Linked DNA regions of Homo sapiens. Changing the gene in region 1 together with any one later gene gives a genetic interaction. Each region holds a gene or a part of one and is shown on either strand. Other genes may lie near its edges.

The links.
Region 2: changes in ASPM (region 1) and CPPED1 together harm fitness more than expected from each alone (negative genetic interaction), as found in Homo sapiens cells (one study listed by BioGRID).

Annotation. Positions count from the first base shown.
Region 1 is NC_000001.11:197,143,143-197,154,063, forward strand, and holds the start of ASPM (abnormal spindle-like microcephaly-associated protein), read right to left. Parts: upstream 3,528-10,921; 5' UTR 3,296-3,527; coding exon 2,999-3,295; intron 959-2,998; coding exon 815-958; intron 669-814; coding exon 1-668. UniProt on the Homo sapiens protein: Involved in mitotic spindle regulation and coordination of mitotic processes.
Region 2 is NC_000016.10:12,701,349-12,711,710, reverse strand, and holds part of CPPED1 (serine/threonine-protein phosphatase CPPED1), read left to right. Parts: intron 1-6,661; coding exon 6,662-7,087; intron 7,088-10,362. UniProt on the Homo sapiens protein: Protein phosphatase that dephosphorylates AKT family kinase specifically at 'Ser-473', blocking cell cycle progression and promoting cell apoptosis. May play an inhibitory role in glucose uptake by adipocytes.

The DNA.
Region 1 (10,921 bases):
GAATCTGGACTTAAAATTTTCTGATAAATTTCATGTGCAATTGTTGATTCCAAATGCACAGGCTGTGAATTATCTTTCATAAACATATCTGATGAAAGACATGTTACTAATTCTAGTTCATTATTAGCTCCATGACTATTATTTACAAAAGAATCTGGACTTAGAAAATGTATTTGGCTTTGTGTAATGTTCAAAGTTGAAGAACAGTTGGGGGTAAGACTAAGTTTACTATTCTCTCCTCTTTGGCCATTAACATTTACGGAATTAAAGGAAGTTTCAGTTACAGCTTTCTCATTAAAAGAAACTTTTGAAACGTTGGCACTGTGTACATTTAATAGTTCCCTATTTTCTGATGCATGAAGAGATGAGTAGGTAGTAGATCGACGTACAGAGAGTGGCAAGCAAGTTGCACCATGGCATTCATTGAAAGCAGGGCTAATAGGTGATATGGGTATTTTATTTTCTTCAAGTATTAAAGAATTGTTTTCTGTTGGGGGACCGCCTTCATTCATAGCCAAGTTTTCACAAGCTTGTAGTGGGCTCCTAACTCTGTCAACTTTTTGGGAAACACTAAATGTTTTATTAACATTCTGAATATTTGAAACCCTTCTGTTGTGACTTGTAGAGGCTGAAATTTTCTTCTTTTTAATGGTATCCCAAAGACTCCTCTGCAAAAATAAGGAAAATATACCAATTAAGTTTGTAGCTATTGAATATTAAATAAGCAATATTACTTCAAGCCTGTTATCAAAATAAGTTTTATTTATTATTAAACAATTTCTTAGAGTAAATCACAGAATGGTTAAAACATTACCTTTTTCTTTTTCTGCTCTTCTGCATTTCCTAGTAATATAGCTTGGTGTTTCAGAACATCATTTACAAGAAATGTCATAATCTCTCTTACTCGGCCTTCTTTGAGTGGTGTCCAGTTAACAGAAATAACAATTTTCTCTTTAGGCTATAATCAAAACAATACATTATATAATTACAATAGTAATTACATAATAACCAAAACACCTTATATACAACTTACAATATAGTAGGGCTTAATAATTGTTAACCAACACTCTATATACTAAACATTTAATAAATCAAATATATTTCTCCTACCCTATCTGCTTAATTATAAGAAAAAAAGTCACTAAAAATAACAGGGTTCACAACAAAATAAATAATAAAATCTTAACTGTATTAAAGCAATAGAACAGATAGTCTCTAAATCATTTTGTTTGAGTGGTTTCAAAAGATTTAATTGTACATTTCTAATTTTTAGATGTGTAGAGTACTTCTACTTCAAACACAAGGACCCTGCATTATGAAGACTTTATTTAAAAAGAAATGTAAAGATGATCAGCTAAATTCCTTCTTCCTTACAAATTCCTCTAAGGTCCACATCATCATACTGAGATTTCTTAAACAGGTATTATTGTTCCAGGCATAAGTGCAGGTATCCTGTAAAACTCATTTAATGCTAACATCCCTAGGAAGCAGGTATTATGATTATGCACATTTTACAGATGAAGTAACTAACATCCAGAAAAGTCTGCCAAAGTCACGCAGGTACCTATTAGAACCCAGGCAGTCTAATGCCAGAGTTTGGACTTTAACATCTACACCCCACACCCTGGCAGGTAGACAGAATCTGCCAAATTTAAACGCTGACATGACAAAACAAATTTTGTTTTTCAGGAGAAACAGACAAGTTTCTGTTTTAAAGGAGAAATAATATAACATCATAAACAACTAATTTTAAAAAATAAGAATGGTGCATTTTTACTCTATAAAATAGTTTATTCTAAAAATACCACAAAATTTAGTTCCACATTATAACAAAAAAGAGTAAGTTGAAGTATTATGTGGATAGAAAAGAAATCTGTCTTTCCAAAGAAAGGAAAGCAGGCAGTGATTCATGAAACAGAGGGGCGGGGTGGGTAGGTTCTGAAGTGTAGATAGATGAACCATTGGTGACACACAAGTTAAGGGACCTCAGATTAGAATCTCTTTTTTCTGCCTAATGAAGTGGTTATTAGCCTACTAGTTCAGACCTCCTCGGCTAACGGTTTTCATACTTTTGGTGATTCTACTCAATGGAAAGGTCACAGCAGTCAAAATAAAAACATAAATTCTCCAGTCTTTGGTGAAGGGGATTGGAGCATTACTCTTGCAAATGCAATGCAGTAAAAGAAAGCTACAGGAGTTCTTGAAACAACATTTATAAAATTAAATTTGATGCAGCATTAAAATTACACTTAACAGCAAAGAAAAAAAGGACTAAAATACTAAAGTGTGCATACATACTACACGTATATATTGAAAACAACTCTGAATAGGTTTTTTTGGTTTTTATTGTAGGCATTTAGCCAGAACAAAGCTCACTATTTCACCGGAAAAAAAAACCAGTTACCTCGACTCTAAGGGTACATATGGAAACTAAAATGCATATTAAGATGGCTGATAGAAATTTTAAAAAAAGCTGCTTTAACCAACCAAGGTACTCCTGTCAATCTTAAAAAAGTGTTAAAAAAGTGCATTGTCTATTAATTTAGAACGGCAAGGCTATTTCACAACGCCTTAAGTCTAGTAAAAGTGCTTGTCAATTTAACAGAGAAGTCTATATAACTTGCTCCTAAAGATGCTAAGTGCGCGCGCGTTTATGTGTTGTCCCCGCCCAAGTTAGCGTCTATCCTAGCCTTCAATTAGAGAATATATATATATATATATATATAATATTGACACATATATATATACTCACACACATGTGTATGCGTCAAGGGCCCACCCACAGTTATTGAAAAGGAACTGACTTCACTCTCTAAGGGTCTTTTCTGATTTCTTTTCCAAGAGCCACCCACAGTTATTGAGTGAAAGGGAACTGACTTTATTCTCTAAGGGTCTTTTCTGATTTCTTCTCCAATCGTCAACCTTCCTGAGGAGGGTGGCAGGAAAGATAGCGGAGAAGCAGAACACCGGCCTGGAGCACGCTCCTCCTGAGACCTACCTGCAACACGAAACAGCGCTGCGACACACTGAAGCCCAGGTCCGCGGCCGGGAAGTGGGAGATCTTCACTTCTGCCACCTCCTCGTTAGGGTTGTCTAGGGCCAGAGACAGCGTCCGTGAGGCTCCCAGGAGAACGTCCCCGAAGCAAAGGAAAGGAGACCTGCAGAAGTGGCTGAGAGACAGGACCGGCGGGGAAGACGCCTCCTCCTCGGCCGCGGGGCCCCGCAGCCCCGCGGGCGGCCTCCGCTCGGTCGGGCTCACTTCCCAGCAGCCTCGCCCCACTCGCCGGTTCGCCATGGCAGATTCGAGACCCCTCCTGGATCTCCTTGCCCCGCTCCCACGAGGCGGCTCCGGAGCGGGGATCCGGGACTTACGCTGACCGCTTCCCCTCAGGGGCGGCTGTAGAGGTCGTGGGAGTGAATTCGGCCCTTTTTCTTTTCCACTAACCTACTCCCTAGAAAACAGAAAACAAGCCCAATAAACTCGCAAATTAAAAAGAGGAGCCAAACAAGTATGGCGTTTTGACTCTGTTTAAACTTGCCGCCTCCACCAATGAGGACCTCCGGGCACCGCCCTCCTCGTCACGGGACCAATCGGTGAGCAGCATCCCCTGGCCAATGAGACGGCGGCGCTTCATTTGAATGATTGCATCCGGCCGCCAATCGCTATCTGCGGAGGAGGTGAGAACGGTAGCGGAATCCTGGCCACCGTCTAAAACCCGGGGCTTAGAATTGAAATTCGTCTTTATATTTTTGGTTGTGCTGAAGGGAAGGGAGTCACAGCATTTCCACAATACATGTAGTAATCATTGCGGTTTCCAGGAACAATCATAGATAAAACTGTTACGTAGGCAAAAATTGGTTTATGCCACTCCTCTCATATGCATACCCCGCCCAGAATTATATTAACTTTACTGTCGCGGTTTCCAGGGCTGAATGGTAGAGATGTAAAGATAATTAGTTTGTATGAACATGCTTATTTTAGTGACAACATAGCAGGGACTCAGTACATTTACATGCTGTTAATTACCTCGGGACGCTGGGAGCAAAACCAGGTAAACAAATGAAACCTGAGATTACCAGTAATTCATAAATGATTGTTTTGACTGGCAATGCCCTTCACAAATATCTTATTAGTTTTTATTTCAATTGTAGGGATCTAATAATAATTATAGCTTACATATTAGGGATTTTTTAAATTATTTATTTATTTTGAGATGGAGTCTCGCTCTGTCTCCCAGGCTGGAGTGCAGTGACGTGATCTTGGTTCACTGCAACCTCCGCCTCCCGGGTTCAAGCGATTCTCCTGCCTCAGCCTCCCAAGTAGCTGGAATTAGAGGCGCGCCTCACCACGACTGGCTAATTTTTGTATTTTTGGTAGAGAGGGGAGTTCGCCATGTTGGCCAGGCTGGTCTGGAACTCCTGGCCTCAAGTGATCCGCCTGCCTCCGCCTCGGCCTCCCAAAGTGCTGGGATTACAGGCCTGAGCGGCGCCCGACCCTAGGCTAGGGATTTTTTAAAAATCCTTTACCTATTTATCTCAACCTTTGCCTTAAACCTACGAGGTATCTCTTAGGGCGTAGGTACCATTATTTGTATCTTACAGATGAGGAATACAGGTCATACAGCTAAGTAGGAAGTGGCATAACCCAGATAGGTACACATGCCTGTAATCCCAGCAGTTTGGCCCTAGTCTTGCTCTTACCCACTACACTATATTGCCTCTAAAGGCAGTAGAAAACTTAAAAAATAAAAATAATGTCTGGATGTATGTATGGTTACACAAAACATGTAAAAAGAGAAGTCAATGGGAAATCAAAATAAGGAAGATGAGACATGAAATTATATTCAATGGTGTCCAATTTCACCTGAAGTTGGACCTTAACAATATTTAAACGAAATTTTTCCACTGGGCACGGTGGCTCAAGCCTGTAACCCAGCACTTTGGGAGGCTGAGGCAGGCGGATTCTTGAGGTCAGGGGTTTGAGACCAGCCTGGCCAACATGGCGAAATGCCGTCTCCACTAAAAATAAAAAAATTAGCCAGGCGTGGTGGAGCATGCCTGTAATCCCACCTACCCCGGAGGCTGAGACAGAAGAATCGCTTGAACCTGGGGTGGGGGGTGGGGGCAAGGTTGCAGTGAGCCGAGATCATGGCACTGAACTCCAGCTTGGGCAAGAGAGCAAGACGCTGTCAAAAAAAAAAAAAAAAAAAAAAAAAATTCTTTCATAGAGGCTTAAAAAAAAAAACAACAAAACAAAACCCTGGAGCAGAGCCTCACAAGTCATTTCCAGTTCTCCTCAGCATCTACCCCCCACGACCTCTCCATTAGCTTAGTTAGGCTCCAAAAAATAAAACTTGGACGGAGGAGAGTGCAAGATATGCTGTGGGAGGGAGGAAACAGCCTATACAGCAAAGAGTTAAAAGATTTTGACAGTCTAAGGTGGAATGTAATGGTGTTAGACCAAGAGGACAAATCATAAGGAACAATAAGGCCAAATTTATTGTCATGGGTGCACTTTACCCATTTAATTAATACAATGTCCGAAGTACCTGGGAATGGCTTTAATAGTTTAATAGGTTCACTAATTGAAAACTGAACTCAGTAGTGGTTTACAGTCAGGTAGGTCAAGGCCAGGCACGGTAGCTCATGCCTGTAATTCCAGCACTTTGGGAGGCTGAGACAGGAAGATCGCTTGAGCCCAGGAGTTAAAAACCAGCAACAAAGTGAGACATGGTCTTTATAAAAACAAAAACAAAACAGGCAGTTAGGTCAAAATGCTCAAACTACCTGGCATTCTGTACACGAAGGAGTCCAAAAGCTCAGGAAGATAGGAATGTTGGAGAAAATCTACATGTGCAACCTGCTTGGCCAAGTCACATCTAAACATGCACACCCTCCACCCATTCTCCTTTTACCAAGGTGTTGATAAATGCATTAACTAATAAAAAGGACTCCAGCATCCATGAAAAGACCTGGGTGACTATTTTTTATAGGCCAGAAATGATGATAGAGGATCAATAATGAAAATAGGTTCTCTGATCTCCATGTGAATTATATGATCCACAAGTGGTCAAAGTCGATTGGCACTTAATAGACAAGGTGGTATAGTTCTTACCACAATATGCTAATGGCAGAATTGTAATTAGAGGCAGGGATCTGTGGCAATGGCCAGTTTCTCAAGGGCCCTATAAATAAGATGAGCTATATACTATGGTGCTGCCTAACATATATAGGCAGAGAAATACCACATATGCAAAGCAAAAAACCTAACTGAAGCCAATGTTGTGGCAGTTATGCCTTTTACCCACTTTCCAAACTTAAGACAGTTCATACACCCAAAGCTCCTTGACTAGAAAGAACCCTGCAACACGAATACCATAAATCTTCTCTCAACAATTCCCCAGAGGGAACTGCAGTCATTTACCCACATGAATATGGATTGGGGGCAGGAACTTGACTTCCTAAGGGTTATTAGATAATGAGATAATAGCTCTGCCTTTCTGCTATACTCCAGAATCCTAAAATGTCACTGTGGACCACCAGACATAGTGAGAGCTTCTCAAGAACCGGTGACAGATGGCATCTAAGTCAGAATCTGTCTTACCAAGTGTCCTTTGGATCCACCCATTTCCAGAATATAAAATAGGAACACTTACTGACCACATTCTCACACTGGTTCCTAGATCCAAGGAACAAGGGCAATTATTGGAGAAAGGGCCAAGTGGAAGCCCCTGAAAATCACCATTTTCCCACCACGGCAATTCAGAGATTATTCTGAATACCTGAGAGATGTTGGGATAGTGATTTTGTCCATATACCCACTTTCTCCACTTATTTGGCCAGTGCAAAAGCCAGATAGATTCTGGAAAATGATAGTAGATTATAGCAATTAGGTGATGATGCCAATTATTACACTACAGTTTCAGATGTGTTATTTTTATACACAAATCAACATACCTTTGTCAGCTGGTTTGCAGCTATGAATCAAGCAAAATGCATTTTTCTTGTTTTTCCCCATTCATCCAGTATTGAAAAACCGAAGCACTTTGTACTTAAGTAGTGGTACAATGCTGTAGCATTACTGTCCTGCCTCAGGGCTCGTCAAATTTCCTACCTATACTGTAATATTGTTCAGAGAGACCTGGATCTTAGTATCACACTGGTCCATTATATTGATGACATTTGCTAATTAAACCTGGTGAGCAAGAAGTACTTGTCAAGAATTGTGTGAGTCTGAGATTTTATCCCTCTTGCAAGCTAAAGAGTTAGCGTGCCAGTTTCATAAAGGCCAGCAGAAAATATGACAGTTTTGGGTTAGAGACAAGACTTTATTATTCACAGAAAAAACAGTAGCTAGAGTGTCAGCATGTTCATTCACATTGATTCCTCCTGCTTCCTAAGTCTCATGGGACCATACAAAGGGCCCTTGATGGATGCCTGCACACACAGTGGGTTGTATTACAGGAAAGGAAGAGCGAATTGGAGATTTGACTGTTTTTATAGTACTATGCCTGGGCAGGGAGACATCCTATCGTCCCTCAAGATTTCTGCAAACACAATCCTGAGAAATGGCCTATGTAGAAATTAATAAGGGCTTCACATTCTTAGCATAGCCAGCAAGAATGTGTAGGCCTGCTCAGAGCCCATGGTAAGTTGCATCTCTCAACAGGAGCAAGCACTGTGGATGCCAATAATAAAACAAATGTAAACCAGATGGGACAAAGTTCAGGGTCCTATCACATCTGTAAAGTTTTTAGGGATCCAATGGTCTGAGACATGTCAGGCTATCTCTTCTAAAATAAGAGGCAACTTGTACTTTGTATCATTTGTAAAGCCTCTTTAGATTTTGGAGGCAATGCATGCATTATTAAGACACATCTCACCAAACCATTTACCTAGTAAACTCTAAGACTGACATTTTTGAGTTAGGCCTGGAACAAGTAAGATCTCTGCAGTAGGTCTGGGCTGCAATGGCCCAAAACACTCATTCCATGACAATCCAAGATGTGGAATAGAAGCTCTGGCAAGTTTCCAGAGAAGTATCACAGTACAAAATTCCAGGTTTGGAGAATAAGACTATGCCTTCCTCTGCAGAAAATCATCTATCATTTGAAAAACAGATCCTAATTATGCTATTAGGTATGGTAGAGACTGAATGCCTCATCAAAGGACTATAAGTGACTGTGATACAAACTGTTTATTATCAACTATTACCTAATCCAGGGATCAGCAAACTATGGCCTAAGGGCTGAATCTGACCCATTGGCTTTTTTTTTTTTTTTTTTTTTTGGCAAATAAAGTTTTACTGGAGCAAGGCCATAAGCATTTATTTACATATTGTCTATGCCTTCACACTGCAATGGCAGAATAGCTGTGATAGAAAACATATAGCTTGTATAGCCTAAAATATTTAGTGTCTGGCCCTTTACGAAATATTTGCTGACCTGGGATCTAATCTCAAGGACCATAAAATTTGATGTGAAGAGCAACATTGCACTATCAAACAAAAGCAGAATCTACAAGACCAGGGCTAAGCAGGCCCCAAATACACAAGTAAGTGATACAAACAGGTGATTCAGATTTTAGTAAGTATCTTTTACTACTTCTACTACTTTGCCACTTCCCTCTCTCTCAAACTACACAGGAAAAACTGGGTATCTCTTAATGATAATTTCACAAGAAAAAAGGCCTGATTTATGAATGAAGCTGTATAGTAGGTCAGACATAAACAGACTTACATTACAGCTTCTCCTTAGGGGTGGATGGGAATACTCTCAGTGAGAATTCTGGATGGTATGTTTGGTAGTCCACTTCATAAGGAAGAGAACATGGCCTAAGGTAAAGCTCTGTGCTGATTCATGGATAATGGCTGACAGGTTGGCCAGCTGGTCAAACCTTTGGAGAAAACAAAATGGAAAATTGGTGACAGCTTGGTCTGGGGAGGAGCGGTATATAAAAGGGCTTCTCAAAATAGGTATAGGAAGTTAAATTTGTGTTCCATGTAAATGCCCATCAGAGAATATCCATGGCTGAGAAGGAGCTCAAAAATCAGGTAAAAAGGACAATCTATCCTGTGGAGGTCAGCTTCTTCCCCCAGAGATCCATTTGCTTGCGCGTTGAACCCATTTAGAAAGTGGCTATGGCAGCAGTGGTGGAGGATAAGAATGGGCTCAAGGTGGTTTCCCTTGCCAAAGCTGATGTGATAAGCCCCTGTGGAGTGCTTAACCTACTGAAAGAGGCTGATGCTGAACATCCAGTCTAATTCCATTCTCCAGTGGGACCAGCTAACTACCTGTGGCATGTGGTTACATTGAACGCTTTCTATTATGGAAGATGCAATATTCTTCCTCTCTGGGATAAATATATTTTTCTGAGTATAGATTACTGTACCTGCCCCCATTATATATATATTTACAGAAAGCTTTATCTATAAACCAATGAATATGTAATGGTTTTCACATATGTCCAAAAATTTGTTGCTATCCTCTCTTCAAGAGAGGGAGTTTAATTTGTGTCCCTTGCATGTGGACTAGAATTAGTGACAATAGAATACAGAAGTGATACTATATCACTTCCAAGATTAGGTTATAAAAAGACAACAACTGAAATCCTGGGTACGCTCTCTTTTTTGGATTGCTTTCAGGAAAGTGGTGTGTGTGTGGAGGGGTGGGGGGAAGGCGGGGCAGGCAGTTGCCATATCACTAGGCAGCCCTGTGGAGAGGCCATGTGATGAACTAAGGCCAAAGACCACGAGTGAGCTTGGAAGTAAAGCCATCCCCAGTGAAGCCTCTAGAGATGGCAACTGACTTAACAGCTTGATTTCAATCTCATGAAAGACCCTGAGCTAAAACCACCCAGCTAAATCCGGCCTAGATTCCTTACCCACAGAAACTTGGAGGTAATAAAAGTTTGTTGTTTTAAGCCACTAAGTTCGGTATAATGTATTAGACAGCAATAGTAAACTAAGTATCACACACGACATTGGCTATAATCAGAAAACTCATTTTGCAGAAATGTGCTCATGCCTATAGAATTTACTGGTCTTCTAACACTCAGAAGCAGCTGCTGAGATAAAATAGAGAAAGTCTATTGGAGGCTCACTTATGGTGCCAGATAGGGATAACAACTTGCAAGTTTGGGGGTACCATCCTATAGCCTACAGTTTATGCTTTCAACCAACAACCATTTCTCCCATAGCCAGAATGTATGTTTCTGGGAGTGAGGGGGATTAGAGGTAAGAGTGGCCCCTCTCAATATTATACAGAATAACTCATTTCACTAATGAATTTTACTACACTTCAGACTTCTCTCTAAAAAACAGCATAATATGACTACTTCAAGCATAAAAGTCATCACTAATATTTGAATTTATATTACACTTAAAATTAGTTTAATGGTTTATACATTTAATATATAAAATATTTCAAAACATATAGCTTATGAGAAAATGTTTTAAAATGTGCTGCAAGTTACTTGGTTTCAGAGTACTGCATTCCCATCCTGTGAAAATGTGGTTCAATAAAACCTAGATATGCTGTATTAGGACCAAAGAACTTTATATTTATTTTAAATATCAAAGTAACACAAAGAACTAGTTCAATATACAGTACACTTCCTACTCTTCACAGAGAACTGAAATTTTCTATAAAGACATTTATACTTAGGAAACATCAGACAACCAAAGTATGTATAAAACTCACAAGATATTTTACACACAGTTCACAATAATTAATTCTGATATTTTAGATTTTTCTGTCATTGCTTTTAAAGTATCCTTAATTAAAAACAAAAATTATTATTTGAGACTGAAAACAAGTGCAAAAGCATTTCTACTTTAATATACACTGTAAATCCCCATAATCAAAACATTTACTACACAATGTGGAACAGCTAAATGCCCAGTTTTGTATTATTTTCTGGC
Region 2 (10,362 bases), on another chromosome or scaffold:
ACTTATGGATCCCCTTGAAAAGCCAACCCCAAGGGCACCATCATGGGGGCTCCTATTAGAATGATGGTGAATGTGTCTGCTTCCAGCCCCACCCTCCACTGAACTCCAGACTCCTAGACCCAGCTGCCCTCTCAACAGCCCAACCTGGAGGGATCATGAGTATATTGATAACTTTGGTGGTTTCTTCTCTTTTCTTTTAGCATGGCAGAATATACGTAACGTTACATGTACCACCTTAACCATTTTAAGTGTACCGTTCAGTGGCATGAAGTATATTCCTATTTGTTGTGCAACCATCATCACCATCTGTCTCCATGGCTCTTTTTATCTTGCAAAATGGAAACTCTGTGCCCATTAAACAATAACTCACCATCCTTCCCTCCTGAAAGTCCTGGCAACCACCATTCTACTTTCTGCCTCTGAATTTGACCACTCTAAGTGCCTCATATAAGTGACATCAAACAGTATTTGTTTTTTCTGCATGACTTATTTCACTTAGCATATATCCTAAAGGTTCATCCATGTTGTAGCATGTGTCAGAATTCCCTTCTTTATTATGGTTGAATAATATTTCGTTGTATGGATATACCACAGTTCGCTTATCCATTCATCTGTCAGTGGATATTTGGGTTGCTTCCATGTTTAAGCTATTGTGAATAATGCTACTGTGAGCATAGGTGTACAAACATCTCTTTGAGACCCTGCTTTCAGTTATTTTGGGGACTCAGATATAGAATTGTTGGATTATCTGGTAATCCTACGTTTAATTTTTGGGGGAGCCACCATATTGTTTTCCACAGTGGCTACACCATTTTTCATTCCCATCAACAATGCACCAGGTTTCCATTTTCTCCACATCCTCACCAATACCTGTTATTTTCTGTCTCTTTGATAGTAGCTATCCTCATGGGTATGAAGTGGCGTCTCATTGTGGTTTTGATTTGCATTTCTTTAATAAGTAGTCGTGTTGGGCACCTTTTTAATGTCCTTATTGGCCATTTATATATCCTCTTTGGAGAAATGTCTGTTCAATCCTTTGCCAACTTTTGAGTTAGGTTGTTTTAGTGGTTGTTGAGTTTTAGGAGTTCTCCATATACTCTGATATTCATTCCCTATCAGATATTTAATTTGAGAATATTTTCTCCCATTCTGTGGTTTGCACTTTTTTCTCTGTTGATAGTGTCTTTTGATGCACAAACGTTTTGCATTTTCATGAGGTCCAATTTGTCTGTTCCCCCCCTCCTTTTTTTTTTTTTGGCCTGTAACAATACATCAAATTTTATATTCAAAATGACCTTTTGATTTCTACCTGTAACCTATTTCTCTCCTAGTCTTTTCCCTGACAGTAAACAACATGACCAGCCTCCCAGTTGCTCAGATGTCTGGGAATTAATTTTGAGTCCTTCCTGTAACCAGTACAATGAGGATTCCTGTCAGTTCTACCTCCCAAATATCTCTTAAATCCTTCTTGTTAAACCTCTAATTTTTATATTATGTTAGGATGTAGAAATACTGTTGATTTTTATATATTTACTTTGCATCCAAGCTAATTTCTCTTATTAGTGCTAAGAGTCTTTGATGTTTTGTTCTTTTGTTTTTTGTAGATTATTTGGGATTTTCTGTGGAGACAGTCTTCTGAGAATTGACTGATTTCTTTCTTTCTAATCTGTATGCCCTTTCCTTTCCTTCCCTCCCTTCCTTCCCTTCCTTCCTTCTCTTCTCTTCCCTTCCTTCCTTCCTTGCCTTCCTTCCCTTCTTTCCTTCCTCCCTTCCTTCCCTTCCTTCCCTTCCTTCCCTTCCTTCCCCCCGTCTTTCCCTTCCTTCCCTTCCTTCCCTGACTGCCTGCCTGCCTGCCTATTGCACTGGCTAGGATTTCTAGTATGATGTTCAGTGAGAGTGTGAGAGCAGACTTCCTTGTCTTGTTCCTGATCTTGGAGGAAGGCAGTCAGTCTTTCACCATTACCTATGATCATAGCTATACTTGTTTACAGATGTCCTTTATCCAGTTAAGGATGTTTATTTCTCTTCCTAACTCACAAAGAGATTTTATTAGACAATGTATTTTAAGGCTATTTGGAAAACAACCAAGATACTAATGTCTGCCTTAATGAATATGGACAAAAATAAATCATACCTCTCACAGTACCACTGATACAAATAAGAATTTTGTAATTATCGTTATCATGCTTTTTACCTCCTAGTTTTATTTTGACCAATTGCATTAAAATTTTTTTAAGTGTTTTAAACGCTTTGCAGCTTTCTACACTGCTCTCGCCATTCCCACCCAGGGCTCCTCTCCGTGGGGGTCAGGTGTGTGCTGACATTGGGGTCCCTGTACTCTTGGCACCCACTTCTCAGCAGATACCTCTTATCCACCTTGGAGACCCCAGAACAATCCTTCTCTGCCCCTCTTCTGAGTCATGTCTTGCCATTTTTCAGAGTCTTTCCCCTTGTTTCCCTGCCTTTCTTCCTGTCCTTTATATACATTCTTTTTGTGAACATAGAACCCTGCGTGAGACAGGAAACTCATTGAAGCTCTGTGTCCTTGGGCAGGTTTCTGTTTTTTCTGTTCATGATGCTGGTGAGGTTGGCTTTGGGCTTTGGGTTCTCATATATAATGGGACATTTTTGAGACAGAGTTTTGCTCTTGTCACCCAGGCTGGAATGCAATAGTGCGATATTGGCTCACTGCAACCTCTGCCTCCCGGGTTCAAGCAATTCTCCTGTCTCAGCCTCCTGAGTAGCTGGGATTACAGGCCCATGCCACCATGCCCAGCTAATTTTTGTATTTTTAGTAGAGATGGGGTTTTGTCATGTTAGCCAGGCTGGTCTCAAACTCCTGACCTCAAATGATCCTCCTGCCTCAGCCTCCCAAAGTCCTGGGAGTACAGGCATGAGCCACTGCACCCAGCCACAATGGGACTATTTTTCAGGAAGCTCTGCTAAGTTGTGCTATGATCTTTGTTAATACTAAGTTGTTGTTAATATAGTACGTAACCCTACAGAGATTCTGTTACATGCAAATGAGAGCTTGTTAAAGATCATGCAAATGTTGGCATTCAACTTGGGTTTTTGTAATCTAGGATTTACTCTTTTATTTCCAGATTCTTAACTAAAAACTATTTCTGTCCCTGGGGAAGATTTTCATTCCTTCTGAAACGATTTACTGGTTGTTATGCACACACAGTGGGTCGCTGATAAAAATGGAAGAATTTATTACATTTAGGGGGATGGGATGTGGAAAGCAGACAGCTGACAGCTTTGCATTCTTGTTTGTACCAGACTCTAGACATCATTATCTTAGTAGGAATTCTTACAGCCATTCCTGAGGTATGGGAATTATCATCCCCATTTCATACACGATGAAACCAAGACTCAGAGGAACCAAGGGACTTACCTAAGGCCATGCAGCTTGTAAGGGGCAAGAGACCAACCCCAGGGCACACTCACTCCACCTCAGCACCTGTGACTCCATGCAAGAGGTATAGAAAGTGTTGGAAAAGCTACACAAGAAAGAGGCTCATCTTTTTTTTTTCCAACAATAAATAAATAAATAATTTTTTTGAGACAGAATCTCACTCTGTTGCCCAGGCTGGAGTGCAGTGGCACGGTCTCAGCTCACTGCAACCTCTGCCTCCCGGGTTCAAGCGATTCTCCTGCCTCAGCCTCCCGAGTAGCTGGGACAACAGGTGTATGCCACCATGCCTGGGTAATTTTTCTATTTTTAGCAGAGTTGGGGTTTCACCATGTTGGCCAGGTTGGTGTTGAACTCTTGACCTCAAGTTGTCTGCCCGCCTAGGCCTCCCAAAGTGCTGGGATTATAGGCATGCATCAGTACGCCCTGCCAAGAGGCTCATTTTTGCTGAAGGAAATTTAGGGAAGATGAGCTGCGTTTTTTTTTTAACAGATTACTGGGGGATATTGGTGGTTTCCCCAAAAGCAGCATCCCTCTTTGTTTGGAAACACACATCACATTACTGTGTGTAATTCCCAGCTCTTCCTTGTTGGTTGCTTCCTAGACAAGGTTTCCTTCCCAAGTCAGCCTTTCTTTTGAACTGCCCCTTCTTAACTTTTCTGTTTATGGTCATTAGGGATTCGGACATTTTTCCATACCTGCCTCAGTTAGCATGTGAGGGGCCATACTTAATGACTTTGAAAATCAAGAACAGGAGATGCTCTGCACCCCAGTGTATTATAAAGTCCTCATCCTGTGTCTCAGGGCAGCCAGGAGAAGTCATCCTGAGAGCAACGACCTTAGTTTGTGACCAGGACACTGTAGACAGCACCTTGAGCCAGACCACCAAGTTCAAATCCCCACTCCTCCACTGGGTGTCCAGAGGAAGCAAGTCGGTGCACACACAGCTCTGAGAACAGTGCCTGGCCTGTAGGAAGTGCTAAGAAGTATTGTCAGTGATTGAATATCCCAAAATCCCCAAGTCAGTGTGAACAGAAAGAAGAAGAAGTGAGAGGGGCGGCTTTGAGGTCTTTGAGAAAATCCAGTGAGGAAAGTGGTAATGAATCAGCCTTGGACCACAAGGGTCGCTTTGAGAGAGTTTGTTGTGTTCAAAGCTACAAAGGACTTGTCTTTCCTAAACTGGCATGGGAAAAGAACCAGACACTGGAGTCTTAGAGAGGATCATGTAAGTCAGCACAGATGCCTGCAGTCCGGGTTCGGCTAAAGAAGCAATGTCAATCAATGGCACCTTCGATGCAGACGGTAGGTGAATGAACCCCCAGCACCCCTGAGAGAGAGGCCTCCTGGTTTCTGGTGCAGGCAGAACCTGCTTCTCCCTAAGGCTCCCTCCACTAGGCTTCAGGCCGTGCAGCCACCTCTCACCTCTGGACACCAGTGGAATGGGCTCGGGAAAGGCTGGCTGACCCCTGCAGCAGGAGTTGGGGTCTGAAGCCCAGTCTGCTCAGCCTCCTGTGGAAGCAGGTCGTGCCTGCTCCAGGGACCGAGAGTCCTCTCTTCCAGGGGTGCTAGGGTTTGTCTGCAGTCCACATTGGCCTCATGGCTGGTCTGAGTTGATCCAGGCTGGCCCTGGGGCTGCCAGTCCAAACATTCATTCCAGCCACCTGGCTGGCTTCCTCAATCTTCTTTAAGCCCCAGAACCATGGAGTCAAAATCTTTGAGTTTTTTTTTTTTTTTTTTTTCGGTGAAAATTATACATAAGCTTGGGAAAAGGGAGGAAGGAAAGAAGGAAGGGAGGAAGGAAAGGAAGGGAGAAAGGAAAGGAAGGAAGGAAGGAAGGGAGAGAGGCAGGGAAAGAAAGAAAGTATTTAGGTTGGTGCAAAAGTAATTGCAATTTTTGTCATTACTTTCAGTGGCAAAAACTGCAATTACTTTTGCACCAACCTAATATAAAGGGTTTTAAACCAAGTGTAAGACTCCCTCCCTCTCTGCTTCTGTTTCCTGGATTTAACCAGAGTTAACAGTTTTCTTTGAATCTTGGGGGACATTTTATCCATAATACATGAATACATGTGAGGCTTTTAAAAATTTGTGTGTGATTTTATTCCTCTGTGCCTTATATTATTAACTTACTATATATTAAAGATTTTCTCATAGCATTAATATAGATCGCCTGTTTCTTATCTTGATATTTATTTATTTCATTAGGGTTAAATATAAAACTATTGCAGTGAGATATTGAAATTCTGAACTCTTACACGTCTAACAATGTAACTAAAAGTAAATGACGTGAACCTTGGCAGAATTACAGAAAGAGACAGATCAATCCACAGTTACAGCGACAACTTAACCAAGTCTCTCAGAAACAAATATACATCAACAGGCCGAAAGAAAAGGATAATGACACAGAAAATTTGAACCACACCATTAATGAGTTTGATTGAGTAGAAATATGAGGAACTTGGTATTCAACAGTGAAAGAACGCATGTTCTGCCCGGCGCGGTGGCTTACGCCTGTAATCCCAACACTTTGGGAGGCTAAGGCAGAGATTCGCTCTTGTTGCCCAGGCTGGAGTGCAATGGCGTGATCTTGGCTTACTGCAACCTCTGCCTCCCGAGTTCAAGCGATTCTCCTGCCTCACCCTGCCGAGTAGCTGGGATTACAGGTGCCCGTGCCCATGCCCAGCTAATTTTTGTATTTTTAGTAGAGACGGGGTTTCACCATGTTGTCCAGGCTGGTCTCGAACTCCTGACCTCAGGTGATCCACGTGCCTCGGCCTCCCTAAGTGCTGGGATTACAGGCATGAGCCACCACGCCCAGCCTAATTTTCTTTTTTATGAAGACAGGGTCTCACTGTAGTGCCCAGGTTTGTCTCATAATTCCTGGGCTCAAGTGATCCCTCCCACCTCAGCCTCCCCAAGTGTTGGTATTACAGGTGTGAGCCACTGTACCCAGTCCACTAATATTTAATCTCAGGATTGACTTCACACCATCACTCAGCAACATAGGGCAGGGGGCCATGTAGTCATGGAATTTCTAAGGTATCCTGGGGAAGGATGGGCAGAGGCCCCCGTCGGACTTGTTGGTTTGCTTTTAGCACGTGACTGCATTTTGCAGTTTCCATGTGCTAGGTGGAGTGGATTTCCAGATTACTCTTTTTTTAAATTTTATGTTAGTAAGTACTTAAGTTAGTTATTTCAAGTGAATAAGCCCCTGGCTTTCTCAGGACGTGACCCTCACTCTTCCAGGGAAGCCGTGGCGGACGGAGCAGACGGAGGACCTGAAGCGAGTGCTTAGGGCAGTGGACAGGGCCATCCCACTGGTCCTTGTCAGCGGCAACCATGACATTGGCAACACCCCCACGGCCGAGACCGTCGAGGAGTTCTGCCGGACTTGGGGAGATGACTACTTCAGCTTCTGGGTCGGGGGCGTCCTGTTCCTGGTCCTCAACTCCCAGTTCTACGAGAACCCCTCCAAATGCCCCAGCCTGAAGCAGGCTCAGGACCAGTGGCTGGACGAGCAGCTGAGCATCGCGAGGCAGCGGCACTGCCAGCATGCCATCGTCTTCCAGCACATCCCGCTGTTCCTGGAGAGCATCGACGAGGACGACGACTACTACTTCAACCTCAGCAAGTCCACTCGGAAGAAGTTGGCAGACAAGTTCATCCACGCAGGTAGAGGCCCCGGGCCACGGGTTTCAGGGAGGAAGGACAAGTCTAGAGAGGGCATTTCCAGATCTTTCTCCCGTCTCTCTGCAATGTGTCAAAAAGGGAGAGAGGACTAGGCCGGGAGTTCTGATACCAGCTCTTGGACTTGCAGACTGCATGTCTGGCTAGTTAATCCTCCTGTGCCTCAGTTTCCTCGTCTATAAAACAGGAATAGTAATAGTAGCCTTATTGCAGGATGGTGTCAAGGATTAAATGAGAAAGGCCTCCAAGACATGGAGAACAGACCCTAGCCTAAGTACTCAGTGTGCCATAGCTGCTCACAGTTGAAGATTGGAGTTCTGGAAGTGGCAGGAGGGGTTTATTGGGGGAAGTAGACTGGGTAGTGCAGGTGGGTGTGAATGTGGCTTGCATGTGCCTTGGGAGAAGGCAAGATGCCAGGGACATCTGCTTTCACTTCTCTGGGAAGCAGGCACCTTGCTCAAGGGCAGACGATCTTTAAGAGTCAAGCTGCCCTCCAGTATTCATCAGCTGTGACTCAGGAAATCCTGGGATGTGGCTTTAGCGGACAGTTCCTGGGGCCTGATCAGTTTTCCTCTGCCAAGGTAGATTAAGTTCTCCTCCAGAATCAGGAGAGAGTAACGGATTTAGTCCCATCTTTTGCTGCCAGTGATATATGTGACAGACACGTGCACGCACAGAATGAAGACCCTCCATTTCTGGAGGTCACACCTCAATTTCTGATGGCACTCTAAGGCACTAGCCCACCCACCTCCTTTATCTTTCTGGTAGCACCTGCCATGGGCCTTTCAAGAGAAACAGTCTGTTCTAGGCAGATTCCCTGGGTTACCAGTGATTTGGCAAATTCCAGTTTTGACAACTGTTGTGTCTCTTCTCTTTGTCCTCGTTCTTCCTTTCACCAGGGCTTACTTTTTTTTTTTTTTTTTTTTTGAGACAAAGTCTTGTTCTGTTGCCCAGGCTGGAGTGCAGTGGCAAAATCTCGGCTCACTGCAACCTCCGCCTCCCAGGTTCAAGTGATTCTCATGCCTCAGCCTCCCAAGTAGCTGGGATTACAAACGCTGACCACCACGCCTGGCTAATTTTTGTACTTTTAGTAGAGATGGGGTTTCACCATGTTGTCCAGGCTGGTTCCAAACTCCTGACCCCAAGTGATTCACCCACCTTGGCTTCCCAAGGCCACGGGACGTGATCAGTTTTCCTCTGGTGAGGTGGATTAAGTTCTCCTCCAGAATCCGGAGAGAGTAACGGATTTAGTCCCATCTGGGAATACAGTGCTGGGATTACAGGTGTGAGCCACCCCACCCAGCGGAACATTTTGTATTTTCAAGACATTTTGCAATAAGCTCACATAATTGGAGATGTTTTCCAGCTGTTCCATGGAGATAAAGTTAGAAAACTTCTATTAAGTCGTTTGAAATTTCATGCCATGCTTGAGTTGGTGCAGAAAACTGTCTTGATGACAAGGAAACAAAGCGTCAAGGCGGCATGAGCACCACCATGGAGACTATTCTGTAGTGGAGAATAAAGCCAGAGAGAACATTTAATGCCATTGAAGTGATTCCTTTCATATCCAATGGTATTTCTTTTTTTTTTTTTTTTGAGACGGAGTCCCGCTCTTGTCACCCAGGCTGGAGTGCAGTGGCACCATCTCGGCTCACTGCAACCTCTGTCTCCTGGGTTAAAGCAATTTTTCTGCCTCAGACTGCTGAGTACCTGGGATTACAGGCACCCATCACCATGTCCAGCTAGTTTTTGTATTTTTAGTAGAGACAGTTTGGCCAGGTTTAGTTTCACCATGTTGGCCAGGCTGGTCTCGAAACTTCTGACGTCAGGTGATCCACCCACCTCGGCCTCCCAAAGTGCTGGGATTACAGGTGTGAGCCACCGCAGCTGGCCAGATCTAATGTTAGATGATGTAAAGCCCATGACTGCCCTGAGTTCTTTGTTCTTGTTCTTGTTGACCACATTCCTGAGTGGTATGTAGTTCTGTGGTTTTCCCCTTGTAGGACAGAGCACCCCCAGATACTGAGAAGACTCACAGTTCTAATTTTTTCTATTGATTGATTGATTGATTGATTGAGAGTCTTGCTTTGTCACCCAGGCTGGCGTGCAGTGGCGTGATCATGGCTCACTGCAGCCTCGACCTCCTAGGCTTAAACAATCTTCCCACCTCTACCTTCTGAGAACCTGGGACTATAGGCACACACCACCATGCCCAGCTAATTTTTTTAATTATTTGTAGAAACGGGGTCTGACTGTGTTGCACCTCACTGGGCTTTAACTCCTGGCCTCAAATGATCCCCCTGCCTTGGCCCCCCGAAGAGTTTAAATTACAGGTGTGAGCTCTAACAGGGCACCCTTGGGAGAAGCCTGTTGACCACCCACCAAGGGCCCTACAGGGTGGCATCATATCCATGATGCCCCAGCCCCCTGCCCACTCAGATCTGCAACCCCTCAAGCACAGGAACCAGAGTTGCTGGCAAACCAAGAGCTGGTCTGTGTCTCCAATTATCCCAGCTCCCAGAGACTGATAGCTACAAACCAGAATGGCAGTTGATTAATTTAGAGCAAGACCGCAGCCCTGGCCTCCACCCCAGCGGTGCTTTCTCTTCCCGTAGGCAGAGCTACATGGGAAGCCCAATTATAATCAGGAGGCTGCTTGGTAGGCATGAGAAAACAGGGGGGTTAGCTGCCTTATTCCACTCTCAGTGACATCAGGCGCTGGAATCCAATGGCTCCATCTCCGGAGGAGCTCGCTAGCTGAAGGCACTTGGTTATTTCATGTCCCTTTAATTCTACCTCCTTCGTGTCTCTGTAGCCTGTCCACTGTCTCATCTGGGTCTTAGCAGCAGCTCTGCACTGTGCTCCCCACTCTGCTCTTACCCATTCTAGTTCATTCTGCACCTAACAGCAAGATGGGTGTGTAACTGACTGCAAAGCATGAGGCTTCCCTCCACCCCCAGGTCCGGCCCAGCTCTTCACTGCAGTGTCCAGGGCCCTTCTCAGTCACATCTGCCTTCCCCTCCAGCCTCTTCTGGTTCACCTGCCTAGGCCCACTCAACAATTTTTTGTTTGCTGAGACATTCTCACTCTGTCACCCAGGCTGTAGTGCAGTGGCATGATCTCGGGTCACTACCACCTCCTCCACCTCCCAAGTTCAAGTGATTCTCCTGCCTCAGCCTCCCGAGTAACTGGGATTACAGGCGCGCACCACCATGCCTGGCTAATTTTTGCATTTTTAGTAGAGATGGGGTTTCACCATG